Linked DNA regions of Homo sapiens: all the other regions are linked to region 4. Evidence: fine-mapped expression QTL. A gene starts in region 4. Each other region holds a variant in brackets. All regions are shown on one strand. Distances are between the middles of the regions. Region 1 overlaps FAM107B (family with sequence similarity 107 member B). Region 2 overlaps FAM107B (family with sequence similarity 107 member B). Region 3 overlaps FAM107B (family with sequence similarity 107 member B). Region 4 holds the start of FAM107B (family with sequence similarity 107 member B). Region 5 overlaps FAM107B (family with sequence similarity 107 member B). Region 6 has its middle 75 kb from the start of MIR1265. Region 7 overlaps FAM107B (family with sequence similarity 107 member B).

The links. PIP is the estimated chance that this variant, and not a neighbour inherited with it, causes the effect.
Region 1: its variant is the best candidate, but not a certain one, in a credible set for the expression of FAM107B in whole blood (INTERVAL, PIP 0.66).
Region 2: its variant is the best candidate, but not a certain one, in a credible set for the expression of FAM107B in spinal cord (GTEx, PIP 0.63).
Region 3: its variant is the best candidate, but not a certain one, in a credible set for the expression of FAM107B in coronary artery (GTEx, PIP 0.84).
Region 5: its variant is the best candidate, but not a certain one, in a credible set for the expression of FAM107B in tibial nerve (GTEx, PIP 0.79).
Region 6: its variant is the best candidate, but not a certain one, in a credible set for the expression of FAM107B in blood mononuclear cells (TOPMed, PIP 0.78).
Region 7: its variant is the best candidate, but not a certain one, in a credible set for the expression of FAM107B in macrophages after interferon gamma (Alasoo 2018, PIP 0.74).

Annotation. Positions count from the first base shown.
Region 1 is chr10:14,555,360-14,559,427 of GRCh38, reverse strand. All of the region lies in intron 2 of FAM107B (family with sequence similarity 107 member B), which reads left to right. Among named protein-coding and RNA genes, the nearest start is that of MIR1265, 120 kb to the right of the region's middle. RefSeq lists a silencer at 304-598 and enhancers at 1-668, 3,024-3,083, 3,318-4,037. The variant A/C (reference allele first, on the strand shown) is at 2,198.
Region 2 is chr10:14,546,120-14,550,187 of GRCh38, reverse strand. All of the region lies in intron 2 of FAM107B (family with sequence similarity 107 member B), which reads left to right. Among named protein-coding and RNA genes, the nearest start is that of MIR1265, 110 kb to the right of the region's middle. The variant T/C (reference allele first, on the strand shown) is at 2,177.
Region 3 is chr10:14,733,318-14,737,385 of GRCh38, reverse strand. The region is part of intron 1 of FAM107B (family with sequence similarity 107 member B); the gene reads left to right. Among named protein-coding and RNA genes, the nearest start is that of FAM107B, 40 kb to the left of the region's middle. The variant G/C (reference allele first, on the strand shown) is at 2,309.
Region 4 is chr10:14,772,737-14,776,804 of GRCh38, reverse strand. FAM107B (family with sequence similarity 107 member B) reads left to right here and starts at 1,908. Exons shown (of 5, transcript NM_031453.4): 1 at 1,908-2,552. The coding sequence starts at 2,142.
Region 5 is chr10:14,617,308-14,621,375 of GRCh38, reverse strand. All of the region lies in intron 2 of FAM107B (family with sequence similarity 107 member B), which reads left to right. Among named protein-coding and RNA genes, the nearest start is that of FAM107B, 160 kb to the left of the region's middle. The variant A/G (reference allele first, on the strand shown) is at 1,991.
Region 6 is chr10:14,509,473-14,513,540 of GRCh38, reverse strand. No RefSeq gene overlaps it. Among named protein-coding and RNA genes, the nearest start is that of MIR1265, 75 kb to the right of the region's middle. The variant T/A (reference allele first, on the strand shown) is at 2,184.
Region 7 is chr10:14,694,438-14,698,505 of GRCh38, reverse strand. The region is part of intron 1 of FAM107B (family with sequence similarity 107 member B); the gene reads left to right. Among named protein-coding and RNA genes, the nearest start is that of FAM107B, 78 kb to the left of the region's middle. The variant T/C (reference allele first, on the strand shown) is at 2,478.

The sequences.
Region 1 (4,068 bases), 220 kb after region 4:
CATTAGAATGGAAGCTCTTTGGCAGGTCTGCCAGGACCATTTATCACCTTGTCCCTGGTACTCAGACCTCGGTGCTGGCAAAGCTGGGCTCATGAAGGCTGGCTGCGCAGGTGGGTGGCTGGCTCACGCGCTTGGTCCTGGAGGTGGGGGAGAAGAGATGGTCCACCAAATGGTTCTTGCAGTTCTCCCCGTCCTGCCCTCTGGACATGGCTGTGTTGTGGCACAGGCCGTGTTGTACTTGTGGCTGATCTTGATCGATTCTCTTCTCTGCTCCCTGTGCTGGAGCTAGACACCAGGTGTTTTTTTTTTGTTTTTTTTTTTTTTTTTTGAAGTTCCACAGGTGATTTTGATGTGTGAGCCGTGGTTGAAAGCCACAGCTGGACTGCGTTGGAAGGGAAATGGAGGTCAGCTTAGGCCAGTTGGTTCACATGGAAATCAACAAAACCAGCGTGGCTTTGAAGGATGTATAATTCTGTTACTCTTTGTTGGACCCACACAACTCAGCAGTTGAAATTTATTATTAGTTTTTTTTTCTCCTGCGTTTTCATCTCCTAATTTGGGCTCCCCTTCATATAGAGCTTTTGGAAGCAAGTAAGAATTCAAGTTCATCAGGCACATTTTCACTACACCTGGCAGAACATATTAAGGTGTTGTGTTTTATAAAATCCAGCCAGAAACTATAGGTGGTCTCCAGCTCCACACACTTAGCAAGGCCCCTGCTCAACTCCCCACCCAACCCCAGTTTTCCAGTCCTTCCTGCGTTCACCAGAGGCACAGTCAGGATCACCTTAGACGCTGAGTTCAGAAATGGAGAAGGAATACAGTTAAAAAAAAAAATCAAGATCAGGTGAGCAGTAGCCAGATGGCTTCTCCACACAACTCTCTTTCTGGATGCTTCTGGAAATTGCCATCCAATTTTGGTCATTCTTTTGGCTGTATAATAATTCAAACGGTGCTTTGTGAATAAGTTACCTTTTAAAAGTTATGCATTTTAGCATCTATAGGAAGGTCAAGGAATTATTTTACACCTCAGGGTGAAATAATTTAATTAGGTATCTTGTTTACCCTGAGTCTTCTGAAAGCTAGAGGGAGCAAATTGGAGCTTTTGAAAGAGTGTGTGTGCGTGTGTGCGTGTATGTGTGTGTGTGCGTGCACGTATGTGTGACTGTGCGCGTGCACGTATGTGAGTGTGCGCATGCACATGTGTGTGAATGTGAGCACGTGCACGTGAGTGTGTGCACACACACACTGGTGGGGAGGCAGGTGATGATGGGTTGTGTCATGAATGCCCAAGTCTGGCGGTGCATTTAATGGAGTAGTCCAGGGAAGCAGGAGGAAACTGAGGAACAGGGAGGGCAAGCTTGAGGAATTAAGGAATTACCTGGACTCACGGGGAGGAGCTCAAAAGACGAATTCGATCTTTTTCTAAAAACATTTTAAACAGTAGTTTGCCTGACTCCAAATCAGGAAGAGACAGCTTTACCTCATCTCTCCTGCCTCCTAGCCTGTGGGCTCCATTAGCAAGGGATGAACTATCGAGTAAGAGCTGGCACTCTGGCATCAGGTAGACCTGGCTGGGACCTGGCTGGGTCCTGGCTAGGCCCCGGCTAGGCCCCTCCAATGGCATCACCATGGGCAGGCTGCTAATCCCCCTGGGCCTCAGCTACTCCTCCGTCAATAAGGATAATAATACCTCCCTCGCAGAACTGTTGTGAAGGTTGAGATGAAATATGAGAGTGTTTAAAGCAGTGCCTGGGATGCAGTAAGCACTTCGAATGTTAACCAGTAGTAGCAGTCATATTTTTGTGGATTACCTGGGAACCAAACCATCATCATTGATATAATTTCTATTACCAGTTTTAAACAGTTAAATGACAAAGAATCCCATTTTAATCAAGACATTACAGTAGAGCACAGACCCAACCTGGTTGGGTACTTAGTAGGGAGAAATAGAGGCTAGAAATTAATAATTATGCCCAATACCAGTGAACAGCTGTTTTCGCACTGTGACCAGTTTAGTACAAATAAAAATGTTTATAGACTGCATCTTTTCTCCATGCACAATTTATTGAGGTATTTCATCACTTTAACAGATGATAATTGAACATTTAGAATTCCTAGCCTTGAAGATCCAGCGAGGTACAAACCAGAAATGGCCCTGGCCCCTAGGTAGCTAAATATCTAGAGGGGAGAAGAT[A/C]AAAAACACACATGGGGCTGGCAATAAATTAAACAATTACAGATGGTGAGAGTTGGGAAACAAGCTTAGGACAGAGACTGACCACGGAGGGACCCGTGTTGGATTGTTGATCCGAGAAGGTGATGTTGAAATACAGACTGAGAAGGTGAGGAAGAGCCAGGGGTCAGGAGAAGTGTGGGAAGGGGGCTGGCTTGGGAGGGTCATGCGCTCCAGGTGGGGACATCATGTGCACCAAGACATGCAGCCCAGAAAGAGTTTGGTGTGTTCCAGGAATGAAGGCAGGCCTGTGTGGCTAAGGCGCAGGGAGCAAGGTGGCGGAGAGACTGGCATGAGGCATGAGAAGCAGGCCCAGGTCAGATCAGGTGGGGAGTGAGGGCCGCTGCCAGGGCATTGGAGAAGCTATTGAGAGGCCCTGACAATCCCATGGGGGGAAAGTCCATTCTTAGTGCACGTTTCCTGCTTTGAACTTTTTCTATTCAATAACGAAAACCTGGGTGCTATATTTGTTTTAGCCACAAAACTATCTGGGTATCTTTGAGAAGTGGCACTTGCTGAGGTGGCCTTCTAAATCTTTGCCTGCTGTTCCATGGCAGGATGCCTTGTGAAGCCAGGTGTGGCTTGTGGCCTAGATGGACCAGGGAGATCTCAAGTGAGGGGCAGTAGCACGGAGCACACAGTAGGTGTCAGTCAAGTCTAAACGTTGCGCACGGCTTTGTTTTGTCCAGAGCTGAGCTCTCGTTAGGTCGGGGCTTGACAAATATGAATATTGTGGCCTGGGCTGCTCTCTGGCATGCTGAGTGCTGACTGGTGTATTTCCTTTTTCAGCCAGAGAATCCTGGTCAAGCCCTGAACAGTCCAGAAACTCTGAGGTCAGCATTTCTAGATCTTCTGTGCATTTGGGAGGAGTCACCATTGATGACTTTATCAATTGTAAATTTCCGATATCAAATTACTGGCCTTCCAGTCAGTCGGTTCTGATGACAGGAAGGACGAGGGCTCTGGAAAGTCACTTTAAGCTAGTCATTGTTAGTCAAATAGTGCTGTTTTTGTATATCGAGTATTGAGAAGGGAATGTGCTTGGTCTGTCTTCTCTCTCTGCTTCGTCACCTGCCAGTCCTGAGGGCCCCAGGCAGCAGTGCAGCTTTAATGTGGATTCCTATGGATCAGAGGTGTCCTAGGGCTCACGTTGTTATTCTGCATTGCACTTGCAGCCAGGTAAAATCAGATTTCTCCTGTTTCCCCTTTTGGGGGTGGGGTGTGTGGATTTGAAAGGCCTGTCACGTGTGGCCTGATTGCACTGCCCAGTGTGTGTGTGTGTGTGTGTGTGTGTGTGTGTTAAAGATGTCTGCAAGTTTAGCACTGGCCTGTCCTGATTAGTGAGGACCTCTGATTGCCTAGGCCAGGGCTCAGGTGAGAATACTTTGATGCTGAGGGGTAAACTTGCCTTCTGAAGGCACAGAGCCTCCTGGGTGGCAGAGCAAGGACTGGGCCTGGCGTTTCTGACGTTTAGACCTGTGTTCTTTGATAAAGCCATGATGTTTAATTGTGGAGAAAATGGTTCTGCAGCAGATGCAGTGAGGAAACAAATAATGCCCAATTTTTCCAAGTCACTGAATCAAATCTTTATCTCAGAAGTGAACATTTTAAGAGAAAACAAAATTTATTTCTTGCTAATGGCGTGGGAACAACTTATTTAAAAAAATGAGAGTGAGCAAAATAAAACTAGATTAAAGACAGAAGTAAAATGTTTAGAATAGTTTGTTTTATAATCAGGCATTAAATTATGTCAGTGGGAGTATGATTCCAAGTTCATAATGTCATCACTACTTAATTAAAATAATAGATGTCTTTGTAAGTCTGCTTTTGTTAGA
Region 2 (4,068 bases), 230 kb after region 4:
AAGCATCCTGTTGGAGTCAAGATAAATCGGATCACTTCACTTCTATAGGATCTGGATTATGACTGATGTCTCTGTTCCTCATCACTAAAATGAAGTGGTATTTCTCGAAGGCCTCTTTTAACTCCAGAATTAGATGAATTTTTGAAATGTTGAATATTTTCTAAAACAGCCTCCTTTCCATTCCCGTAAGAAAAACGGTTGTTATGCTCTATAGACATGTGGCACCCGATGTCTGGGTATTTACCAGTGAGCTCTTTGTTTTTAGGCTTTCATCATTCTGTGTTCCTTGTTTGCCAAGTAGGATGCTCACTTGCAGGATGCGGTCATTTTCCCATTCAGCTTTTAAGTTTTCCTGTGTCTGTTACTGTCCATACAGATAGTGAAAGGCTTCAGCTGAGTCCTGTGGGGAGATCACTTCGAGTTTCTGGGTTTGGGTGTGCTGTGATGGGGTGACTGAGATCACTGTCGGTGGTGAATGAACGGTCTCATGGAGCTGGGGTTGCCCTGCTTTTGTTTACTCGTGACTCTACAGGGCAGCCTGTGGGAAAATGGCAAGGCTTGGCGTCCTGGAACCACAAGCCTCCAGAGGGAGTTGAATTAATGTGCAGAGTTGAATCAGGGAAAGTTCAGAGGCAGTGTAGTTTACTCCCTTATTCCAGTACCCACACTCACTACAAATGTGTTTACATTTAAACTTTTGCCAAAGCCCCCTTAGTTTAAAAGGGAGGCTTCACATAAATGGAAAAGCTGAGGCCAAAAGGCCTAAACTTCTCTCATCTTTATTGCTTATTGCAGCTTTTATTATAGATGCTGCGAGTACTCAGCACTTCTAAGAAACTCCGATTGCTCTTGTTTCCCTTTCAGCTTGGAGCTGGGATCCAGAGTAGTTAACTGAGGGGCCTCGCAAGCCCCTTGTCAGGAGGATGGCCTGCCTTTGAAGGCAGTTGACTCTTGTATGTGTCTTAGTCTCTTTAGGCTGCCATAACAGATGCCACAGACTGGGTGGCTTAAACAATAGATGTTGGTTTCCTCACACTTGTGGAGGCTAGAAGTCCTAGATCAAGGTGCCAGCAGATTGGGTTCCTGGCTTGCAGACAGCCGTCTTCTCATTGTGTCCTCACATGGCATTGAGGCTGGAGAGTACAGGGAGAGAGATTGAGAAAGAAGGAGCTCTGGTCTCTTTTCCTCTTCTTATAAGGACACTGATCCCATCATGTGGGCTGCAGCCTCATGACCTCATCTAAACCTAATTACCTTTCAAAGGTCCCACCTCCAAATACTGTCACTTTGGGGGTTAGGGCTTCAACATAGGAATTTTGGGGGGACTCAGCATTCAGTCGGTGTGTGTGTGCGTGTGTGTGCGTGTGCATGTGTACTTGTAGAGGAGGGTTGATTGTCCACCTGACAGCCGTTGCCATCCCCTCTTCCCTGCTGGATGCCAATTTGCATTTTTCTGGCACGTTTTGCGGCTAGAGTGGTCATGTGACACTGTTCTGGCCAATGAGGCGATGGAGGAAGGCCCCCGGGGGCTTCTGGGAGTGCCTGCCTTCGCAGCTGGAGAGAGCCCTCCTCAGGGGCTGTCTCTGCCTTCCCTTCTTCCCATGTGTATCTGGGGCAGCTGAGGCAGGGCTAGGAGAAGAGCCCAGGTTCCTCCTGCCACCTCCAAGCGATGAAGCAGCCCTGGGCCAACTCCAGCATTCTCGTGTGAACTGCAGAGGAGCCCTGCGCTTCCAGCTACTTGCAGCCAGGTGCTGTTACCTACGCCCCACGCACCCTCACAGACCTGTGTACAAGGGCACAAGTACCTCCCCTGGAGCTGGCAGGAGGTGCAGTCGGAAGAGCATCTGGTCCCTGAGGCCTCCCTGTGCCTCCCCCTGGACCCCCAGGGTGTCCGTGTTCCCAGTTGTTGACCCTCGGGTGCGTCTGTCGCGTCTGCTCTCTTCTCCTCCAGGCAGGGAGCTCCTGGACCACGTCTTGCTCCCCTCTCGATCTTCAGGCCCACCCTGTGCTCCCCCGTAGGAGACATAGTAACTGGTTCAGCCAACCAGGTTAACTCAACCAGCGAGCGCTGTGGGTCCTGGTCTTGCTGACAGCTGTTGCTTTACTCCTTTCTTGTTTTTGGTGTCCTCCCTGCGAAGCCTGCGTATTGGTTGTTCACAGAAAGCCCACCAGGTGG[T/C]CTGAAGAGAGGGAAGTGGGAAAACAGACTTTAATTAAAAGGGCCGGGGCCATGGAAATAGCTGTTCTCTAGGGTTTGGTTAGAGACAGACAATCCTCCAAAGACCCAGACAGAGATGTGTCCCTGTCCTCACGCTCAGTTTTCATTGCGGAAGCAGAAATCAAATAAGAGCCAACTTAAATTCTTTTAATTATGGAACATTTTAAGCCTACAGAAAAAACACATCATTGTTACCGTTGTTTCTGGCATTAAGGTCTCTTTTTTCTTTTTAAGAGTGAAAAATGAAGTTTTCCAGACAAACCCTTAACTAATTCAGTATTTCAAAAGTGAAATACAGGCTGAACATCCCAAATCTGAAATCTGAAATGCTCTAAAATTCAAAATTTTTTGAGCACTGACATGCTGCTTAAAGGAAATGCTCACCGGAGCATTTCAGAGTGTAGATACTCAGAAATATTCCAAATATGCTAAAATTGGAAAAGCTTTGAAATCTGAAACACTTCTGGTGTTTCGGATAAGGGATGCTCAACCTGTAGTGAGTGAGTGGTTGGAAGTTAGAACATATTCTTCTGTAGAAACAAACCTGTTTGACCCACAATTTGGCCAATATACGGAGATTTGAGATGAAAAACTTACAAAATGATAGAATGACTGGCTGTCATTTTACCAGTAAGGAAACAAACCCAGAGAAGTGAAGTCAGGATTTAGGTTTGTGGACCTTTTATTTAAGGTTCTTTCTACTCTGCCATACGTTACTAGTGACTTCAGACAACAGTGTCGAATCTCATCAGCCAAAACCCACCAGGAACACAACGTGTAGTTATACAGAAGTTGGCTTCGTTTAGCTTGCTTCTGCCGGGGCCAGTGTACCCAGAAGAACCCTGGGACTATTTTGGAAAGGCAGACTTGGGGTTGTTGTTGGACTGGGTGATTTGAAGGTGGAATTAGGGAAATGGGACCAGATCTGGGTTGGATGTGGCCAGGAGGCAGAAACAATTCAGTGATTGGGTATCCAACAACTTTTATCTAGGAGGTAGGAGATTAAAGTAGAGTTAGAGTGGCCATGCAGTAAAGAATTTGCAATCATACATGTTGGTGAGAAAAGGGGGCATCTGGTTATTTTTGTGGTAGTAATGTGGGCCCATCTGTGTCCGTTTTTGAGCATTCATTATGTTCTGATGGGAATATGGGGGTCAGGTTGTCAATTAGACTGGTCTTTACTTTGAAGGTCGGTAGGGTTGAATTTAATTTGTTCACCAACTTACTTAATTTCATTCTGAATGCTGATGCTTGAGGAATAGGTTTTAATGGAGCAAGATGCAGTGGGAAGTAGGGACTTAGAGGATGTCTAAATAACCGTGTCTGAGCAGTCACTGGTTTTTAAACATTGTAGCTGCTCAATGGTAATAATGCAAATTTTAAAAAAGGCAGATGGGTAGTTTTCGCCTAGCTTGAGAAGCTTTAAAAATCATCATGACGACTGTACTATCTTAAAACGTGATCAGCTATAGAAGCAGATAAAACTGTCGAGCTGTTATTAAAGTGTACTTACAGTTGAAACATATTAGTCTTCAAAGATGCCATCCAGTTACTGATCCAGAGGTAATGTTAATGGTGGTGTTACTCACGGTGCCAAAACACCCACAGATCAGTAGAAAATGTGGACAGTCAATTTAGAAAATTTGCAAAGCAGTCAGAAGTGAGAGGCAGTGTTGGGTAGTGAAGAGTGGACCAGACTCCAATCTTGGTCCTAGTCCGAGCTTTGCCACTGTGTGGTCCAGAATGTCTTTGCCACTCTCTTAACTTAGTCATTTCATCTCTCTGGGCCTCAGTTTCCTCATCTGTCATAATGAGGAAGTTGAACACCTGGTCTCTGTGTTCCTTCTAAAGTT
Region 3 (4,068 bases), 39 kb after region 4:
CCACCTCGACGTTCTGAAGTGCTCCCATGAGTCACTGCACCTGGCCTAAAATGTTTTTTCTATGGAGAGGAAATGCTTTTTTCCCTTCTTCTCCCCTCTCCACTCCTCTCTTTCTCTCTCACCTCCTTTTTCTCCCCATATCATCCCAACTCCCCCTCTGTAATATATGAATAAAAGAGAAGCCCTACAAGCCTAACAAAAGAGCCCACTGTAAGGCAGAGATGAATGGAATCTCTCTGCTTTTTCTCAGAGCGCTGACAAGATCTCTGGCTTGGTGGTGCTCCGAGAAATCCTCTTAGCTCCCTTGTTTTTGCTTCCTTCATTTCTCCTTCCCTTTTCCTTGTCTGTCTCTGGGCTCTCAAGCCTTCATACTCCCCGCCTTCCTCAGGCAGTGAGGTCTGCTGTGTGGCCTTTCCCCAGACTGCCAACAAGGCCGCCTGGTGTCGGCTTCCTATCTGAGTGCTGGGGGACAACATTATCAAGGCTTCAGTGGGTCTCTCTGCAGCTCTAAACCACAACATTCAACTGCTGTTCTGTTTGCATGATTTCACATTGCAGTCATTGAGAATCTATTTTTAGATGACCCTTTCAAAATTCTACTGTCGAATGTGCTGAAATAATACTGCTTGCTTGTGATTGGACATAAATCCCAGGAATATTTACCCCTGGCCAGAGTTAAAGTCACTTTTTGGAAATGATCAGTTAATGATTTATGATGTTTATACTTAGTGAAGGTTTTTCATGGATCTTGGACTCAGAAAATAGCATTGATTTATAGGACCAATGAAGGAGATTGAGTGATAATGTGTTTTTCTTGTTTTTATTTTTTGGTAATGGACTTACTGTTCTTACATAAAGTAGTATTCACTTTAGTGCAATAGGCTGAAGAGTACACTAAGGATAGAGTCTTAATTATGAGTCTATAAGAAAGCCATCCCAAACAGTTTGGCTTGTCCCTTAGATTGAGGCGAACTACTCAAATCACCAGAGGTCTGCTATAAATAGGCTGACAAGTTGATGTTAACATATTGTGTCTTTTAACTTTCATAAGCAACCCAGTAGAATATGAATTTTGGATTCTACCTGTGTTTTTCTTCAGCTCTGCCTGTCTCCTGACTTGTGACTTTGACCTAATGACTTCCTGTCTATGGACTTGTGTCTTGAAAACTAGAGAACAAACTGGAGATCTCTCAGTTCCCTTTCAGCTTGTCCAGTTTAAGGCTGGCTACCATAATATATTCTGGAGGTACATGCTGTTTTAGAGACTTTGCCACACAGGGGGACTGCCATCTTTTAGGACTTCCATCTTTGTTATCTGCTCGCTCCCCCTCTTCTTTTCCCTTTTCCCTTTTCCCAGGCACCATACATAAAATCTCTCATGATATTTTATTGCATTTAACCTATAATCATTCCCTACCTTCCTCTTAGGTTTCTTGTAATAATAAAACATAATAGATACATAATAGCCCTTTGGGACATTTTAGTACTGTAGAGATATAGTAATGTCACTAGGAAATGTAGTCATGCTAACCCCAAATCTTAGGTGTGACCATGGCTACATTTCCTAGAGACGGAGTGTAGACCCCACTCAGTAAAGCTGGACAATCGCAGATCCCTGGGAGTTGACTATGAAAGGCTTTCCAGTGTATGCCCTGGCTCAGAGAGGACTGGCAGAACTCCAGCTACTCTTCTGCTTTAAATTCTATGAAAAGGAGTTTTCCCATTCTTCCTGAACAGTGCAGGCCAATGCTTTATCCCCTTGCAATTGGAGAATTTTTCCTAGAGTCATTCTAAAGCACGCTATCTTTTGTCCTAAATGTTCTTGCTTATCTGTTAATGATGCATTTCACCAAAATGGACCTGAAACCGAAGTGCCGTCTCCTCTACTGGGCAGACAGACATCCTGAGGAATCATCTTGGAGGCCACCAATTGACTTTCAGCAAAGGCCCACCCCAAAATAGCTCCAACAGATGAGTATCTACCACAGGTGTCCAATCTTTTGGCTTCCTGGGGCCACATTGAGAGAAGAATTGTCTTGGGCCACACATAAGATTCACTAACATGAATGATAGCTGATGGGCTAAAAAAAAAAATTGCAAAAAATCTCATAATGTTTTAAGAAAGTTTATGAATTTGTGTTGGGCTGCCTTGAAAGCTGTCCCAGGCCCCATGTGGCCTATAGGCCATGGGTTGGACATGCTTGATCTATCCTATCACAAAAGGCCGTTGGCTCTTGAGGAATAAATTCTGCTTATTTTATCCGCTGGAATGGACAGGACCTCAGAATGGACACCGAATTATGACCTA[G/C]TTTTGCAAGAGAAGCCTGGAGACAGCAGGTGGATGACATCTTGCTGGACACCTGCAAGTGTGGCAGCTGATGCAGGCTGGCTCGAGACTCACTCTGCTGACTTGGCAGATTCGGCTGGAACAGATGGGCCTCTATGTGCCAGGGGAGGAGATTGCGTATATCAATTTGTTTTCTTCAGGGGATTTATACAACTGTGTCCACTGCATTTCACTACCAAGGTACTTGACAAATGAACTATTTAAAAGCACAAAGCTCAGTGAGCCAAGATCGCGCCACTGCACTCCAGCCTGGGTGACTGAGCAAGACTCCATCTCAATAAATAAATAAATAAAAGCACAAAGCTGTAAAGTAATGCCAGGATCAGTGGAACATTTATAGACCCAAATTGTCACTCCGCTTGAGCAATGGAGGTGTGCCCTAAGTTCTGGAGCACAGGTCCTGCTCATTCTTAGTAATCACTGGTACAATTCAAAGGTGTCCAATCTTTTGGCTTCCCCGGGCCACATTAGAAGAAAAGGAATTATCTTGGGCCACACATAAAATACACTAACACTAACGATAGCTGATGAGCTAAAAAAAAAAAAAAAACCTCACAAAAAGATTTCATTATGTTTAGGAAAGTTTATGAATTTGTGTTGTGCCACCTTCAAAGCCGCCCTGGACCACATGTGGTCTGTGGGCTGCAGGTTGGACAAGCTTGATTTAGTAAATGCTTCCAACTCCCTATAGGTCAGGATGGGCCAATGTAAGGGCAATATAATTGGGCTGCAGTTGGTGCGGGACAGTTCTGGTGTGGATGAGAGCACCACTCATTATCATGGAAACCAGGCAATTTTCCCCCAGTGGCTTATTAAGCCATGATGCAATGGATCTTTGATTCAATGTGTGGCAGGACATTTATTACCCTTGTTATCGTAACATTGTAATCTCATTACAAATTGATTGGCATTGTTTTCAGAACAAGAAGTTGTATATATTTTTTTTTAAAGGAAGTCCAAATGTGCAAGCTTGAACAAATCTAGTCCCAAGTTTATGTAGGTGTGTTTGGCAGCCCATGTATTAATTCAGTGGCTCAAGAGTTGAACACGTTGCTTCGGTACCTGTTCTCCTCTCAAAGTCCTCTCTAAATACCAGGTGCCCAGAAACTCTTTTCAAGGACATTTGTTGAAAATACTTCCAAAGGGTTTATGCAGTTAATATGGCCAAATGAAAAACCTGTTCAGGGAGAAAATGTGGAGAAGCAGTGTGGTTTGCTGAGAAGAAGATGGGGTCTGGAATCAGACAGAGTTGGACTTGAGTCTTGGCTATTTACTCACTGTTTCATCTTGGGCAAGTTGCATAGTCTCTTTGAGCTGCCAATTTCTCCTTGTTAAATGGAAATGATAAAACCTGCCTCCCAGGGTTGTGAGAGAAATAAGTTAGACAATAGGAGCTGAATTAACCACAGTTTACCTTATCATTATTTTGGACGACCTTTCTCCAGTGCTATGGGTATTTATTCTAATATTTAAAAGCCCCATGATATATCATTTGACAGTATAATTTCCTGGTTGAGACAGACAGACTGGTGTCACTCTACCCTTCATTTAGGAACTAGTTTATCATCATGGGTAAAACAAGCGTATCTTACTGGATATCATTTCTACTTAACATCATTTTAGTCAGGTTTGTATGAAACTTGGTGGCATTTTGTTAACAAAAGATCTCAGTGATCTTTGCATGATGCTGACAAAATTGAAGTAAAATGTGATCTCCGTTG
Region 4 (4,068 bases):
TCCGATGAGTTCATGCGTGCCTCTGAGCACACCCACTGAGCGAGGAGAGGTGGTCCTCAGAGCCCGGATGCAAGCCCAGGGCCTCCGCAGACCTAGAAAGTGGCTCTGAGCTTTCTTCCTCAGCGGTCTCCTGAATGTGGCCGCTCGCAAGCTGCACTGTGAACTGCTGACTCTCTGTTCCAAAAGGGGCTTGACACATAATTGAATGAATATATGAATGAGTGAATGAAACCAGGTGTAAGAGTGCATTTTTCTTTTCTTAAATCCCTTCCTGTTACCTCCAAGCCTTCAAAAATGTCTTATGCAGCATCACAGCCCCGATTTACTATACGTGTGCTTGGAGGGGCACAGCATGGCACGACCCGACCCGAGTGGACTGTAGCAACCAAGTCAAATGGGAGACAAAGTGCAGTTCCGAGGGGTCTCCAGGAATATCTGGGAGGGGGGACCCTGGTAGAAACCTGAACCCCCTGATTTCTTATGGGTGGGGAATTTGGACAGCTTGCACTTGGGACACAATGAAAAAAGAATGAGCTCACAACCCTGGGAAGCCAGAAACAGCTTGGATAGCACGGGGCCTGCCACACGGTAACCTCTAAATAAATGGAAGCTTTCTATATTCTAACTTTCAGTAGAGACTAAAATAAAATGTGCATTTGATGCCATATCCACTCATTCTAAAGCCATATCTGCCTTTTTGTATTATGAATATGACTGTCCATTTAGAACAATATTTCCCGTATGGCCATTACATCTATAAAATGATTGTTAGATAGAATGAGACTCAGAGGACAGATAGGAGAACAGGGATCTCGGGCACCCAACAAGCCCTTCTTAGTGGCATAAACTTGCCTTAGTCACATGAAATTTCAAAGAATTGGTTTCTGCCTCTGTAAAACGGGAATCAGTGCCATAATATAATAACTACCACCTGTCTGGGCCAAAGAGCACATCTTGACATTAAATTAAAAGAGAGAGCAAACAAATTAATTAAGAGTGGGTAACATGCCCAGAAATCTTGACCCTAAAATCACTATTAACGGTAAAAGCATTACAGTATTACATTTCTATAACATTCCTAGCAGACAGTTGGCTAAGGAAAAATCTTGATTCTGAATTGTCTTAGAATATGTTTATAATTTATTATTTTTCACCATTCACATATTAATGTGTTGAGAAACAGAAGATCTATGTTCAAAAAGGAGTTACTTTCTGAAAGTAGGTGATATATACCATATAGGTAGAATACTTCACATGTACATAATACCTCCACACATAATAACATAATACATAAGGATAATTGTTAATGTAGGGCTCTCTTTTTTCTTTTTGGTATTGTTGAAAACTAATCAAGAACTTAGCCTAGCTAGTAAAAAAAAAAAAATCAAATTACCAAAGACCTATTTATAGTTATCAGAAAAGGCAATGTGGATCCTGAAACCAGGAAACTTGTTTTGAGGGTGGGGGGAAGATTCCGGGAAGATTCCGGAAAGATCCCGAAAAGTCCAGAAAGATTCAGAAAACACATCACACCGCATCTCTCCAGGCGAAAGATTGAGTCTACCTCCTATTTTAATAATGAAACAGCTGCTAGGGTCGTGGCCCTTCTAGGGGTCTTCATTTGTGATGGACAACTGGGTCGTTTTTGTTTTGTTTGGGGGAATAAATATTTGAAGGGGGGTAACCAAAGAAGGTTTTGCTGCTGTTATGATGTTATTGATACGCAGGCTGACGCTATTATGGCAGATGCTATCAGGCTACATTATCTTTATGCCTCCTAGGTAACCTGAAGCAATTGTCTATTGACTTGGCACTACCCTACCCTGAAGCGTCTGCCCTGCCTAGGAACTGTAACCGGAGCCACTCACATGCCTCCCCAACAGCTTTCTTTAGCCACTGACAGCATCACAGAAGGAAGAGCGCGAAATTGCCCAGGATGGACACTTTCAAAGGGGCCCCAGCGGCTAAGTGACTCTCAGGGAAGGTGGCCTTGCCATCCCAACTTCTATTTAGGGGCAACCACTAGCAAGTTCTTCTCTTCGGGCAATTGGAAAGAGTTCCTATAAGCAAAGTGGAGGTGATGTGGACCCCTGGAAAATTTCCTTGCCCCGTTTGAACTTTGCAATGATTCACTGCAAGTCATGTCCACGTGGAAAGCAAGACTCACCAAAAGACTGAAGTCTCCCTCTAGAAGCATGCATCCATTTCCGTGCTCAGCTCTGCTCGCCTGTTTTGGGAATACGAGGGAGAGTGCTTCCTTCAATCAGTCCGGCGTGGCTGATACTCATTCCACCGTCCGTGTGCAGCCTGTGGCCAAAGCAGGCAGACAGCCAAGACACCCAAGCGCAGAAGGAGCTCCAGAGAAAAGGCAAGATTCGAGCACCCATGCAGAGAGAAATGGCAGTGCGAATCGGAATTCAAGTCACCGCACTGCGGCCCAGCCCGCGGAGACGCCTGAAGATGTGCCCGGGTCCCTGGATGATGGGGCGGACTGTGAAGCAGTGGTGTTTCACGCTTCCATCCCCAGACCATCAATTATTGACACGCCCAAGGTGAGTGAGTGTTCGCTCTGCGATTATAGACGGGATGGAGCTGGAGGAGCGTTGGGATCATGTGGCGAATGTTTCAGCAAACAAACTCATTTAACCTTACTGAATAAGGCATTGCGGGCGTTCTCACTAGTGCGAAGAAGTGTGTTAAAGCCGTGTAGATTCTCAGAGTGTTCTCAAAAGATGTGGATGAGGCAATGATAATAAGCACTGGAGCCATGGCAATGACCGAAGGTAACCTTGAATTAACGGGCTAGGGTGCCTTAGAGCCAAAAATGGCTCACTCAATAACAGATTAGGAGTAAGATAGTTTACAAAAACATTTTTTTCCTTTTTCTATTTCCCCCTCCACCCCCACCGGTCTGTCAATTTATTTATATGAAAATCCACAATCTAAAAAGTTTGGCTAGGGAATTCACAAAACTGCCTCTACTTAAAATGAATCACATGATATCAAAGCAGTCTGGAAAAATTTGGAAATGATCATCAGTGTATGCCTAGTGGTACGGAAGGGAACTGACCTATAAAACTATTCATAATATGGATGTTTTTGTGATAATCTTCTGAGAGTTGAAGGCAGGAGGAGGAAGTTATTTAAAAAAAATGGTGCCACTGCTCTTAAGAGTTATTTACTTATTTTCTTTCCATTTTTGGCATCAGTGAATTTTAATTGTTGAGTATTCTGATTAGATGGAGCTGTACAATTATTTCAAAGTTCCCGGTAATCCCAGTTTGCAGATGCAGTGTAGAGGAAAGGTTTTCTAAAAGGTACACTCCAAAGATATCTCTTGACCATTTTTGGTCATTTCCTAGCCAAGTAGCTTAGGACCAGACTTAAAAAACTGAGAAGTCTTTGGGGATCCATCACTAAAGTATTCTGATTTTTTAAATCATTTTTCCACATCCGTTTAACAAATTATTTTTTGGTCTGGCTTGCTTCACAGAATCTAAGAAGCCTCCTTAGCAAGAACACAGCCAACCAGCAAAGATAGGGTTAAAACATCATTTAAAAAATAGTTTCATTTGACACCCTGCAGGTTTATATGAAATGACTGAAGCTTGGGTCTGTCGTCTGCATTCTGAAATTGGACAGAGAGTTTTACCATATCCTCTGTCACAGCAAAAACTGCTATGTTTTTTTCTAGCACCACTAAACCAAAGCCCATAACCAACCAGCAAAAACCAAAATTTTCAGTGTATAGCCACATCCAGATTAAGATATTTTTGGTAGTATTATAGGTAGCTGATTAGAATTCATGGCCAAGTTGATATTTGTTGGATATTTATGGTACCAATGATGTACAGTTTTAATGAACCGGAAGACTTTCTGTTGAGCAATGCAGACCCACCTTATATTACTGAAGACAGCCGCAAGAACAAAGGGTTACTTTGATTTTATCTTTCTGTTTTAGTTGCACATGGGACTCAGGGACTCAAGGCAAGCATGTGAATTCAAATAGAACCAATAACACAAAATGGGGCCACATCCATGTTTAGTGTCCACTTGGCAGGAGCAAAG
Region 5 (4,068 bases), 160 kb after region 4:
GCAGTAGGAGTCAGTCACAGAACACAAATAACAGGGCCACAGAATTTTTCTGTTAAACAGAAAAAGTAAGAAAGGAGTCTACATAATATAAACAGCAGTTTAATGTTGCTTTCAAAACATCGAAATGTGAAACCAAATCTCACTCTCCTCACTGGCTGTGGACATGCCTCTTCCCTGAAATTCCCTGAAAAGAATGCCAAATTTAAAAAAACAGAGAACCTAAGAAATAAAATGGTCTTTATTGCAAAAGTCATGATTATCTACATTAAAAATCCCAAAGAACTATTTAAAAAATGACTAAGAAATATAATATGTGAGTTTGTCAAGTTCATAAGATACAAGGTCAATCTGTGGGAATCAACTGTATTTTTAAATACAAGCAATAAATAATTGGAAATTGAAATTCTAAAAATGTATAATTTACAATAACATCAAAACCAAGAAATACTTAGGGATTACTTTAACAAAATGTATGTAAGGTTTGTATGCTGGAAAGTACAAAACATTGATAAGGAAATCGAACAAGACCTAAATAAATGGAGAGATATACTATGTTCATGTGTCAGAAGACTATATATTAAGACATCAGTTAAATGCGGCATGTTCTCACTCATAAGTGGGAGTTGAACAATAAGAACACATGGACACAGGGAGGGGAACATCACACACCAGGGCCTGTGGGGGGATGGCGGGCTGGGAGAGGGATAGCATTAGGAGAAATACCTAATGTAGTTGACGGGTTGATGGGTGCAGCAAACCAATATGGCACGTGTATACCTATGTAAGAAACCTGCATGTTCTGCACATGTATCCCAGAACTTAAATTATAATAATAAAAAAAATACAGTAAGCATTTTGAAAAAAATCAGCGTTATTCTAAAATGTATATGAAAGCAAAGGGCCTAGTACAACCAAAATAATTTTGGAGAACAACAAAGTTAGATGACTCACAAAACCTGAATTTTAGAGTTACTGTAAAGTAATACAAATAAGAAAGGGTGGTGTTGATGAAAGGTTAGATATACAGAGACATGGAACAGGATAGAAAATCCAGAAATAGGCCAAGCGCGGTGGCTCATGCCTGTAATCCCAGCACTTTGGGAGGCCAAGGTGGGCGGATCACGAGGTCGAGACATCGAGACCATCCTGGCCAACATGGTGAAACCCCGTCTCTACTAAAAATACAAAAATTAGCTGGGCATGGTGGCACGCGCCTGTAGTCCCAGCTACCCAGGAGGCTGAGGCAGGAGAATGGCTTGAACCTGGGAGCGGAGGTTTCAGTGAGCCGAGATTGTGCCACTGCACTCCAGCCTGGCGACAGAGCGAGACTCCATCTCAAAAAAAAAAAAAAAAAAAAAGAAAGAAAGAAAGTCCAGACGTAGATAGACACTTACACGGTCAACTGATTTGCAACAAAGCTACCAAGTTCATCAATGTATAAGACATAGTCCTTTCAAAAAGCAAACAATGGAACATCTGTATACTAATGAAAAAAAAAGAAATTCAACCTTTACACCATTGCCTAGCACCATATGAAAATATTAATTTGAAATACGTCATAGACCTAAATGTAAGAGCAAAAACTATAAAACTTCTAAAAGAAAACATAAGAGAATGTAATTGTGTGCTTAGCTTGGGCAAAGGTTTTTTTTTTTTTTTTTTTTTTTAGCTAGGACACAAACACAAATCGTAAAAGAAGGCATGGATAAATAAGCCTTCAAATTTAAAGTTTTTTCTTCTTCAAAATACATTGTTAAGGAAATAAAAAGAGAAGTCATAGATGGGGAGGAAATATTTAGAAAACACATGCCTGTAAAAGAACTCTTACAACTTATTAAGAAAATACACACAACCAATAAAAACTGGATAAAAGACTGGAACAGAAGCTTCGCTAAGGAAGATATATGGATGACAAATAGCACATGAAAAGGTGCTCAACATAATAAGCCATTAGAAAAATAAAAATTAAAACCACTCTTCACCTATTAGA[A/G]TGGCTAAAATGAAAAACACTGCTAGTGTCGACTGCTGATGGATCATAGAACAACCAGGACTCTCATGCATTGCTGGTGGGAACGTCAATATGGGCACTTTGGGAAAAAGTGCCCATTAAGTGAAATGTACACCGACTGACCGTACTGCCTTATTTTCCTAGGGTTGCTGTAACAAAGTATCGCAAAGTGAGTGGCTTAAAACAACAGCAATTTATTTCTCGCACTTCTGGTGGCTACAAGTGTTGGATGAAGGGATCTACAGGCGGTGCTCCCTCTAAATCCCTCTGAAGCTCCCTCTGAAGGTTATAGGAGAGTTTCCTTCCTCATGTCTTCTAACCTCTGGTACTTGCTGGCAATCCTTGGCACCCTTTAGCTTATTGATACATCACTCCAATCTCTGCCCCTGTTGTCACAAGACCATCTTCTTCCTGCGTGTCTGTTTCTGTGTCTCGTCTCCTCTTATGAGGATACTTACCAGTCAGATTAAGGGCCACCGTACTCCAATATGACCTCATCTTAATTACATCATCTGCAGTGACTATTTTTTTTTTAAGCAGTCTCACTCTGTCGCCCAGGCTGGTACCCAATGGCATCATCTCGGCTCACTGCAACCTCTGTCTCCCGGGTTCAAGCGACTCTCCTGCCTCAACTTCCTGTGTAGCTGGGATAACAGGTTCACACCACCATGCCTGGCTAATGTTTGTATTTTTAGTAGACACGGGATTTCGCTATGTTGGCCAGGCTGGTCTTGAACTGCTGACCTCAAGTGATCCACCTGCCTTGGCCTCCCAAAGTGCTGGGATTACAGGCATGAGCCACCAAGCCCGGCCCGTAATGACTTATTTCCAAATAAGGTCACATTCGAAGACTGGAGATTAGGCCTCAACATCTTTTTGGGGGGCGTGGGGGCAAGGGACAGAATCCAACCCATAATACCATACAACCCGACAGTCCCACTCCTAGGTTTTTACCCAAGAGAAATGAAAACATATGACATATGTTCTCACACAGACCTGTGTGAGATGTTTATAACGGCTTTATTCATAGTCACCCCAAACTGCAAACAAGCCAAGTTCATCAACTGTAAATGGATAAACTGAGATAAACAATACAATGGAATACCACTTGGAAATAAAAAGAACGAATTACTGATACACCCAAGAACATAGAGAAATCTCAAAAGCGTCTTGTGAAGTGAAAGCAGCCCTGAAGGAGACTGAACTGTATAATACCCTTCATGTTGCATTCTGGAAAAGGGAGAACTATGGAGCAAAAATTGCAGAGACTGTGGGTGGGGAGGAGGGAACTCACCACAAGGGGACATGAGTCAACTTTTTTAGGTGGTGAAATATTCCCTATGATAATTGTGGAGGTGGTTACACAACTGTATTACATGAGTCAAAATTAATAGATCTGTAGACTAAAAAGAGTAAATCTTACTGTATATAAATTTCACTTCAAGAAGCTGGGTTTGGTGCTTCACGCCTGTAAACCCCACCTCCCAGCTTCAAGCAATTCGCCTGTCTCAGCCTCCCAAGTAGCTGGGAAAACAGGCATGCGCCACCATGGTAATTAGGCACCAAACTCTGGGTCATGGGCCTGTCTCAGGCCTTTTTTTTTTTTTTTTTTTGGCGTCTACCTGAAACTGTCTCTAGTTGTTTATTCTTTACTCCTGACCGGACAGCACCTTCCTAGATGCAGCAGTGTCCTTTCTTCCCTACCAGGACAGCTTGCTCTTGCTTTACATGTGTTGAAGCTCTGAGCACACAGTTTTACTTTTGTCTCTGCTCAAACACAGATAGCCACTTACGTGTTTCATCACTTCTAAGCAGCCATCAATTGTGAAATTAGGATATCTTAAGCTTCAGATGCCAGAATGTACAATTTTATGTTAAATCATATTCAGTTTAGACCATTTTTGAAAAGACAGTGTCTCCTGAGTGGCTTGACTCCTTGTGAGCAAGACCCAGGCTCTCCCTCACTTCCTGTTGCAAGTTTGAGAGACATGTATCCTCTCCAGGGATTAAAACCAGTAAGGCCCCCCTGCTCCACCTTCAAGTGCAAGCCCCTTCTCTTT
Region 6 (4,068 bases), 260 kb after region 4:
ATATTCTGTTATACTGTCCTTTCTGGGCTTGCAGTAATTTTACCAAGACTAAAAGGAAAGAAATCCCCCCTCAGGCTAACTGAAGGAGCAAGATCTGGGTTCTTGACTGATTCTTAGGATGGAGGGCCTGGCAGCACAGTCCACGCTGCTGCAGTCATGGGCCATGGGCCCTGGACAAAGTCCTTCGTTAAAATTAATTCTTCCTTGCTTTGTCATGGAATTTTTAATATCTTGCCATTTCTTCTTTCATTTAGGAAACTTGGTGTCCTTCCCAGAAGTGGATGCTTTCATTTTGCATAGTCAGCCTGACCTACTCATTGTCTTGCCTTTTTATGATCTGTTGATCTTGTCCGTTAGTGTAATCGAAAACTTACATATGCCTGTGAATATCTCATGTAACTAGGATCATTTTGAGATTTTGTCTAGTAGAACCATCAAGTCTGTGTGGTGAACGCTTGTCCCTGAGATATTTGGCTATTTATTATCTTTGGACATAACTGCTGGATCCTCTTTTATTTGTGATCACATATGATCAAGTAGACTCCTTTATTTGTATTTATTATATGTGACCACTGATGACGATTTTATTTTGTTTTTTTGAGACAGAGTCTCAGAATTCTGTTATCCAGGCTGGAGTGCAGTGACGCGATCTTGGCTCACTGCAGCCTTGACCTCCCAGGCTCAAGCAATCCTTCCACCTCAGCCTCCCAAATAACTGGGACTACAGGCATGCACCACCATGTCTGGCTCATTTTTTTTTTATTTTTTTTTGTAGAGACAGGGTCTCACTATGTTACAGCTCAGGCTGGTCTTGAACTCCTGGCCTCAAGTGATCCTCCTTCCTCAGCCTCCCAAAATGCTGGGATGACAGGTATGTGCAACTGCGCCTGGCTTCTTTTGTCTGTTTGTACTATGTTTTTCTAGTTTATCTTATGATTTTGTTTATTCCTATAAGGATAGCTAGAAACAAACACATGTCTATGGTTTATGAAAATGTATATTCTTCATACAACATATAAAATGTCCACACATATATGAATAGTCCCTTAGCTATATCCTATAATCATCTTAATTTTGTATTACAACTCCTTTTTCTCTTGGAGTCTCTATGAATGTGTGTCCCTTTATAGACTCACCTTATAATTTTCATCTCCTTTTTTGGATGCTCAGAATATTACAGCTTGACTGGTGGAAGTCCTTCAAGCTTATTCTTTTGTTTTTGTGGGGTTTTGGTTTTTTTAAAAGTAAAATATTGCTTTTGACAGTTATGGCAGCATCCTTACTTTGTTACAACAATAGGATGTTTGGGGCCATCCTAATTTTTTTTTTTTTTTTTTTTTCTGACGCAAGACATAGGACTGTGTGCCTTTCAAGAAGTCCTGGTTTCTTTTTTGATGAAGAGTAGAAACAGAGATGATCTGGCACTAGAGGTGCACAAGAGAGTTGCTAGTGGACAAAAGTGTCCTTGCACCTGTAGTAATGACAGAGCTAAAGAATGTGAACTCATCCTTGTTTTTCCATTTCAACCCTTTATGTGGTTCTACCTTATTTTTCTTATGAGATCTTATTAAACCAGAAATATTTCCATTACACTTAGAAAGATTAGTTGCGATATTTTCTTTACAGATAAGAGTTATGAAAGGGAATTTACCAGACCAGATACCGAAACACACCTTCAAGCAACAGTAATTTAACTGGCCCAATATTGTCTCAGAGAAGACAAATTGTTCAATGGAGTGGCATAAAAAGTCCAGAAAATGACTGACTTGCGTGTCAAAATTTACAATGATTGAGGTGGGATTTTATTTCAGATCAGTTAGGAAAGGGTAAACAATTCAGTGAAAAGTTTTGGGGCAACTGGAACGAAACAAATATATATTCCTCTACATAAGAATCATTTCCAAGTTTATTAGTGTTCAGCATAAAAATAAAACTGTAGAATTATTAGAAGAAATTATAAGGGAATATTTCTATAATCCTAGTGTTGGAGGAGGCTTTCCTAAGCATAACATTTAGCCCAAAATCTATAATGAAGAAAACTGACAGATTTAACTAGTGAAAATTAAATGCTTTTGTACAAGAAAGATGTAAGAAAGGTTAAGTGTCACAGACTAAGGCATATTACATATACAGCAATACCTGGATTACATACAGAATGTCTGTAAATGTTAATCCAGTAAAAA[T/A]ATATATATATATGAACAGGTAATTCACAGAAGATGGAATACAAATTGTCGATCAACATATGAAGAGATGCTCACTCACTACTATCAGGAAAATGCAAACTAAACCAACAACGAAGTAACTTTATACAAATATTCACAAGGCAAATATTTAAAAGACTGATAATAGCTATGGTTGGTGAGGATGTAGAGAAGCATGTATTATATATACAACATCAGGGGAAGTGCAAATTAGTAAAGCCAATTTAAAAACATATTTTCACATGCTCTAGAATGGATATAACAAAAACGATATACAAATACAAGTGTTGACTAGGATGTGGAAAACTTGAATCCCTTGTTTTATTGCTGGTGAAAATGTAATGGCATAGGTACTTTGGAAAAGTTTGACAGTTTCTTAAGGAGTTAAACAGATTTATCATATGACCCAGCAATTCCGCTCCTAAGTATTTACCCAAGAGAAATGAAAACATACAACCACACACAGAGTCTTGCGCACAAATGTTTATAGCAAGATTATTCATAATAAAGTGTGGAAGAACCCCAAAGGTCCAAGAATTGATAAATGGACAAGCAAATGTGGTATGGCCACACAGTAGAATATTCTTCAGCCATAAAAAGGAACAAAGTACCAATAAATGCTACAACATGGATAAACTGTGAAACAATAAAACTTAAAAAAGTGCACATATCTTTTGACACGCCAATTGCATTTCTAGGAATGTGACCTTAAGAAATACTTATGTGCATAGAGATTGTTCTTCAAAGACATGTGTGGCCAGGTGTGGTGGTGTGCACCTGTAGTCATAGCTACTCTGAAGGCCAGGGTGGGAGGATCACTTGAGCCCAGGAGTTCCAGACGAGCCTGGGCATCATAGAGCAAACATTTGTTGGGCAAACATTTTTTGTCTCTAAAAAAGAAAAAAAGAAATATTTACAGCATTTATCATAATTTATCTTGCAAGCACCCTGCTTATCTAGTAGTAGTTTGCTAGATTAAGTCTAGTACATTCCCATTCTCTTTATGGACTATAATGCAGCTTTTAAAAGAACAAAATATATTATTATACATATACATAAATAAGGCTTTGAAGCTATACCCCATGAATATGTACAACTATTTTGTATCCAAAATAATTAAAAATAAAAAAATTATAAACTAAAATTCCTGAAAATAAGTATTGACCCAAATAGCCTATAAACTGAAAGAGAAAATGATATTTCTCTTAGAACACACTTTCATTTTTCTCCCTGAAGAAACCTGAAAACATTTATGGACAGACCTTTTTGTTTTTCTGTTTGGATTGACCTGAAATAAAATTTTTATTATCAACAACAAAAAGCAAGCTGTGGAACAATAGACATATGATCTCATTTATATGAAAAAAATTTTAAGTATTCATATCCATACATCTATACAAATGCTTGCAAATAGGACTGGAAGTTTACCCAACATATTAACAGTGGCTACTTCTAGGGGAGGGAAGGAATTTAAGGCCAGAAATAGAGTGGCTTCTGTATGTAATCTGCATATTTGTGATCTTTTTTTTTTCCCAAGACAGGGTCTCACTGTCGCCCAGGCAATGAGTTGATCACAGCCCGCTGCAGCCTCAACCTCCCAGGCTCAGGTGATTCTCCTACCTCAGCTTCCCGTGTAGCTGGCACTACAGGCACTCGCCACCACACCTGGCTAATTTTTCTATTTTTTGTGGAGACGGTCTCTGACTATCTTGCCCAGGCTGGTCTCAAACTCCTGGGCTCAAGCAATTCACCCTCCTCAGCCTCCCAAAGTGCTGGGATTACAGGTGTAAGCCACCGCGCCTGACCAATATCAGTATGTATTTAAAATTGTATACAATCAGAATGAGTCCCTGAATCACGAGTGTTT
Region 7 (4,068 bases), 78 kb after region 4:
GTGCAATGCACATATTAAGCATAAACAGTAAATATTTGGAGAAGATTAAGTTTAAAAGTTTGCAAATGGTTTCCAAAAGTCTCCAGGACACAGATATTCAGAGAATCCTCCCGGATTAGCAGAACTTTGTTCACCCCTGCCAGTATCACTTCTTTCTCCTTTTGCTCAAATCACTCTTTCAGTTGGGCCTTTGATCACAGAATTAGAAAGACACAGGAATGGACCTCAGTAGATTTAGACCTCTCTTCTAGCAAAACCACAATGATTTAAGTTGGCTTAGGAGTACTACTGCATGAATGATTTGTTTTCATGCATGTAAAAATTACTCTGAGCATACATTATTTTAAATCTTGGTGTTGATATTTCTTCTTTTTTTTTTTTGAGATGGAGTCTTGCTCTGTTGCCCAGGCTGGAGTGAAATGGCATGATCTCGGCTCATTGCAACCTCCACCTCCTGGGTTCAATCGATCCTTGTGCGTCAGCCTCCTGAGTAGCTGGGACTACAGGCACGTGCCACCTAGCCCAGCTAATTTTTGTATTTTTAATAGAGATGGGGTTTTGCCATGTTGGCCAGGCTGGCCTCAAACTCCTGATCTCAAGTTATCCACCTGCCTTGGCCTCCAAAAGTGCTGAGATTACAGGCCTGAGCCACCATGCCCAGCCCTTGGTATCTGTATTTCAAGAACAAAAGTTGAGTTGGGGCTGGGTCACCATGTGGCAAGTGGCCTCACAGCAATAAAGGTACAACATTGTAGAAACAGTCTAGGTAGAGTCCCTTCGAGACTGATGTCAGGAACTCCATGTGCACGAGGAGACAGCAGCTGTATAGGTCTGAGCACTAGGCAATGAATGCATTTTGCAGAGGAATAAAATAGCTTTCAAGAACACCTTTGTATTTGTCCTAGAGGTAAAGTCTTTAGAAAATGTCTATTTCTATTTCTCTCATCTCTGTTCCTTCAAGGCTATCGTAAGAGGAAGAAAAACAGATTCTGGAACACAGTAGTTTACACATTGTTTGCAGCCAAATTTGAATTTGGCCTACAATTAATTCCTGGGCTAGCACGGCAAACTTTCCAATTACATAAATGCAGAGCCCTGCATTATTTCAAAAACACGTGGTACTTGCTCTGAAAATGATTCCGGATTCCAGGCCATGGAAAATCTGAAGGAACTGTTCTGCCTCCATTTCGGGGACCTGGTTAAGTTGGGAGAAGGCTGGGTTGGGGGGTCTCAGGAGAGGAGGAGAGGACGAAAGAAGAGTTGGCTATGAGCTGATGAAGCGGCAGAGGCAATGTGGCAGCCCTTTCCAGCTCCTCTTTAAGGGGCTGAGATTTTTACGTCCTTGCACTCCATAGCCTCAGCCAGAGCCCCAAGCACAGAACTGGCTCCCCATCCAAGCTTTGAGCCAAAAAGCGTGCACTCTAATGACCTTTCTCCCTGTGCCTCCCCATTTTTTTTCTCTCTCTCTAGACTGTCAATGTATCAGACATCATCTGAATAAAGTTGTTAGGCCTGGTTGCGTAGTAGTGGGGGTTGGGGACACAGTTGATTCAGGGCCACAGTAAACAGAACAGAGAGGAGCAGACCTTTGACACTTTTCAGAGATGCTAAAGGAGCAAATCACTGAAATTGAACCACAGTGTCCCTGGGCACAGCCTACGGGACCTCGGGGTCTGCTCCCTCATCCCACCCTTCTCTGCAAAGTCAGATTGAGTAGACAGGCACAATCCACATTCAGAAGCATCTGCTGAGTTTGAGATAGACACCTTTCTGAGATTTGTTAACAAGGGACGGAGATCGATGGATATTTTGTTACTGTAAACACACTGCAAACACTGAAGAAGTAATCGAAACCTCCCAACAAAGAAAATCCCAGGACCAGATGATTTCATGACTGAATCCTGCCAAACATTTAAGGAAGAATTTATACCAATACTTCTTAAGTTCTTTACCCCCCACCACCTCCCCCGAAAAAATAGAGCTAGAGAGAATACTTCCAAACACATCTTATGAGGCCAGGATGCTTGGTACCTAAGCCAGGCAAAGACATTACAAGAAAACTACAGGTCAGTATCTCTGATGAATACTGATGCAAAAATCCTCAATAAAATATTAGCAAATAGAATCCAAGAATACATCAAAAAGATTTTACATCATGACCAAGTGGGATTTATTCCTAGCATGCAAGCCTGGTTTTAACATATGCAAATCAATCCATGTAATACATCACATTAACAGAATGCGAGATTAAAAGCCACATGGCCACATGGTTACCTCAGTTGATGCAGAAAAAGCATTCAGCAATGCTCAACATTCTTTCTTGATATAAACTCTGAACAGTTTAGGTACAGAATGAAAGTTCCTCAAAACAGTGAAGGCCATCTAGGAAAAACCCACAGCTAATGTTATAATAAATGGGGAACAACTGAAAGGTTTTTCACTAAGATATGGTACAAGTTAAGGATGCCCACTCTCAC[T/C]TCTTCTATTTGACACGGTACTGGAAGTACCAGCAAGAGCAATCACAGAAGAAGAAGAAAGAAAAGGCATCCGAATTAGAAGAGAAAAGTGAAATTATCTCTATTTGCACATGATATGAGCCCATATGTAGAAAACCCCAAAGATTCCACACACAAACAAACTGTTAAAACTAGTAAGTGAATTCAGTAAAGTTGAAGGATACAAAATCAACACACAAAAACCAGTAGCATTTCTATAAATAACAACCTAGCTAAAAAATAAATTAAGAAAACAATCTTTTCTATGATAACATCAAGAAAGTACTTAGGAATAATCTTAACCAACAAGGTGAAAGATTTGTACACTGAAAACTATAAAACATTAGTGAAATAAATTGAAGATAAAAATACATAGAAAAATCTCTCCTGCTCATGGATTGGAAGAATTAATGGTGTTAAAATGTCCCTACTACCCAAAGGAACATACAGATTCAGTGCAATCCCTATCAAAATCCCAGTGGCATTCTTCACAAAAATAGGAAAAAAATTCTAAAATTCATATGGAAACACAAATGAACCCAAATAGCCAAAGCTGTCTTCAGAAAGAACTGGAGGCATAACACTTCCTGATATGAAATTGTATTATAAAGCTATGTAATTAAACAGCATGGTAATGGCATAAACATAGACACACAGAGCAGTAGAACAGAATAGAGAGCCCAGATATAAATCCAAACACATATGGTCAACTAATTTTCAAAAAAGGCATCAAGAGAACACATGGGGAAAGGAGGGTCTCTTCAGTAAATGGAGCTGGAAAAACTGGATTTCCACATGCAAGAAAATGAAATTGTACCCTTATCGTACAATGTACACAAAAATCAACTCAAAAGGGACAAAAGACCTAAACATAAGACCTGGAACTGTAAAATTCCTGAAAAGGGAAACCGGGGGAAAGCTCCTAGACATTGGCCTTGGTAATGACGTTTTGCATATCACACCAAAAACTTAGGCCATAAGATTGAAAATAAATAAACGGGACTATATCAAACTAAAAAGCTTCTACACAGCAAAGAAAACCATCATCGTAGTGAAACAGCAACCTATACATTGGGAAAAATATACAAAATATATCTCTGATAAGGGGCTAATATCTACAATTTATAAAGATCTCATAAAACTCAATAAAAGAAAAATAAATAACCTGATTTAAAAAATGGTCAAAAGACCTGAACAGACATTTCTCCAAAGAAATGGCCAACATTAATATGCAAAGGTGCTCAGTGTCATTAGTCATCAGGAAAATGCAAATGAAAACCACTATGAAATTTCACCTCACATCCATTAAGATGGCAATTATCAAAAATTCAAAACACGGTGTCCCGCGCCTGTAATCCCAGCACTTTGGGAGGCTGAGGCAGGCAGATCACCTGAGGTCAGGAGTTCGAGGCCAGCCCTGACCAACATGGAGAAACTCTATCTCTACTAAAAATACAAAATTAGCCGGGCATAGTGGCGCATGCCTGTAATCCCAGCTACTCGGGAGGCTGAGGCAGGAGAATCGCTTGAACCCAGGAGGCAGAGGTTGCAGTGAGCCAAGATCACACCACTG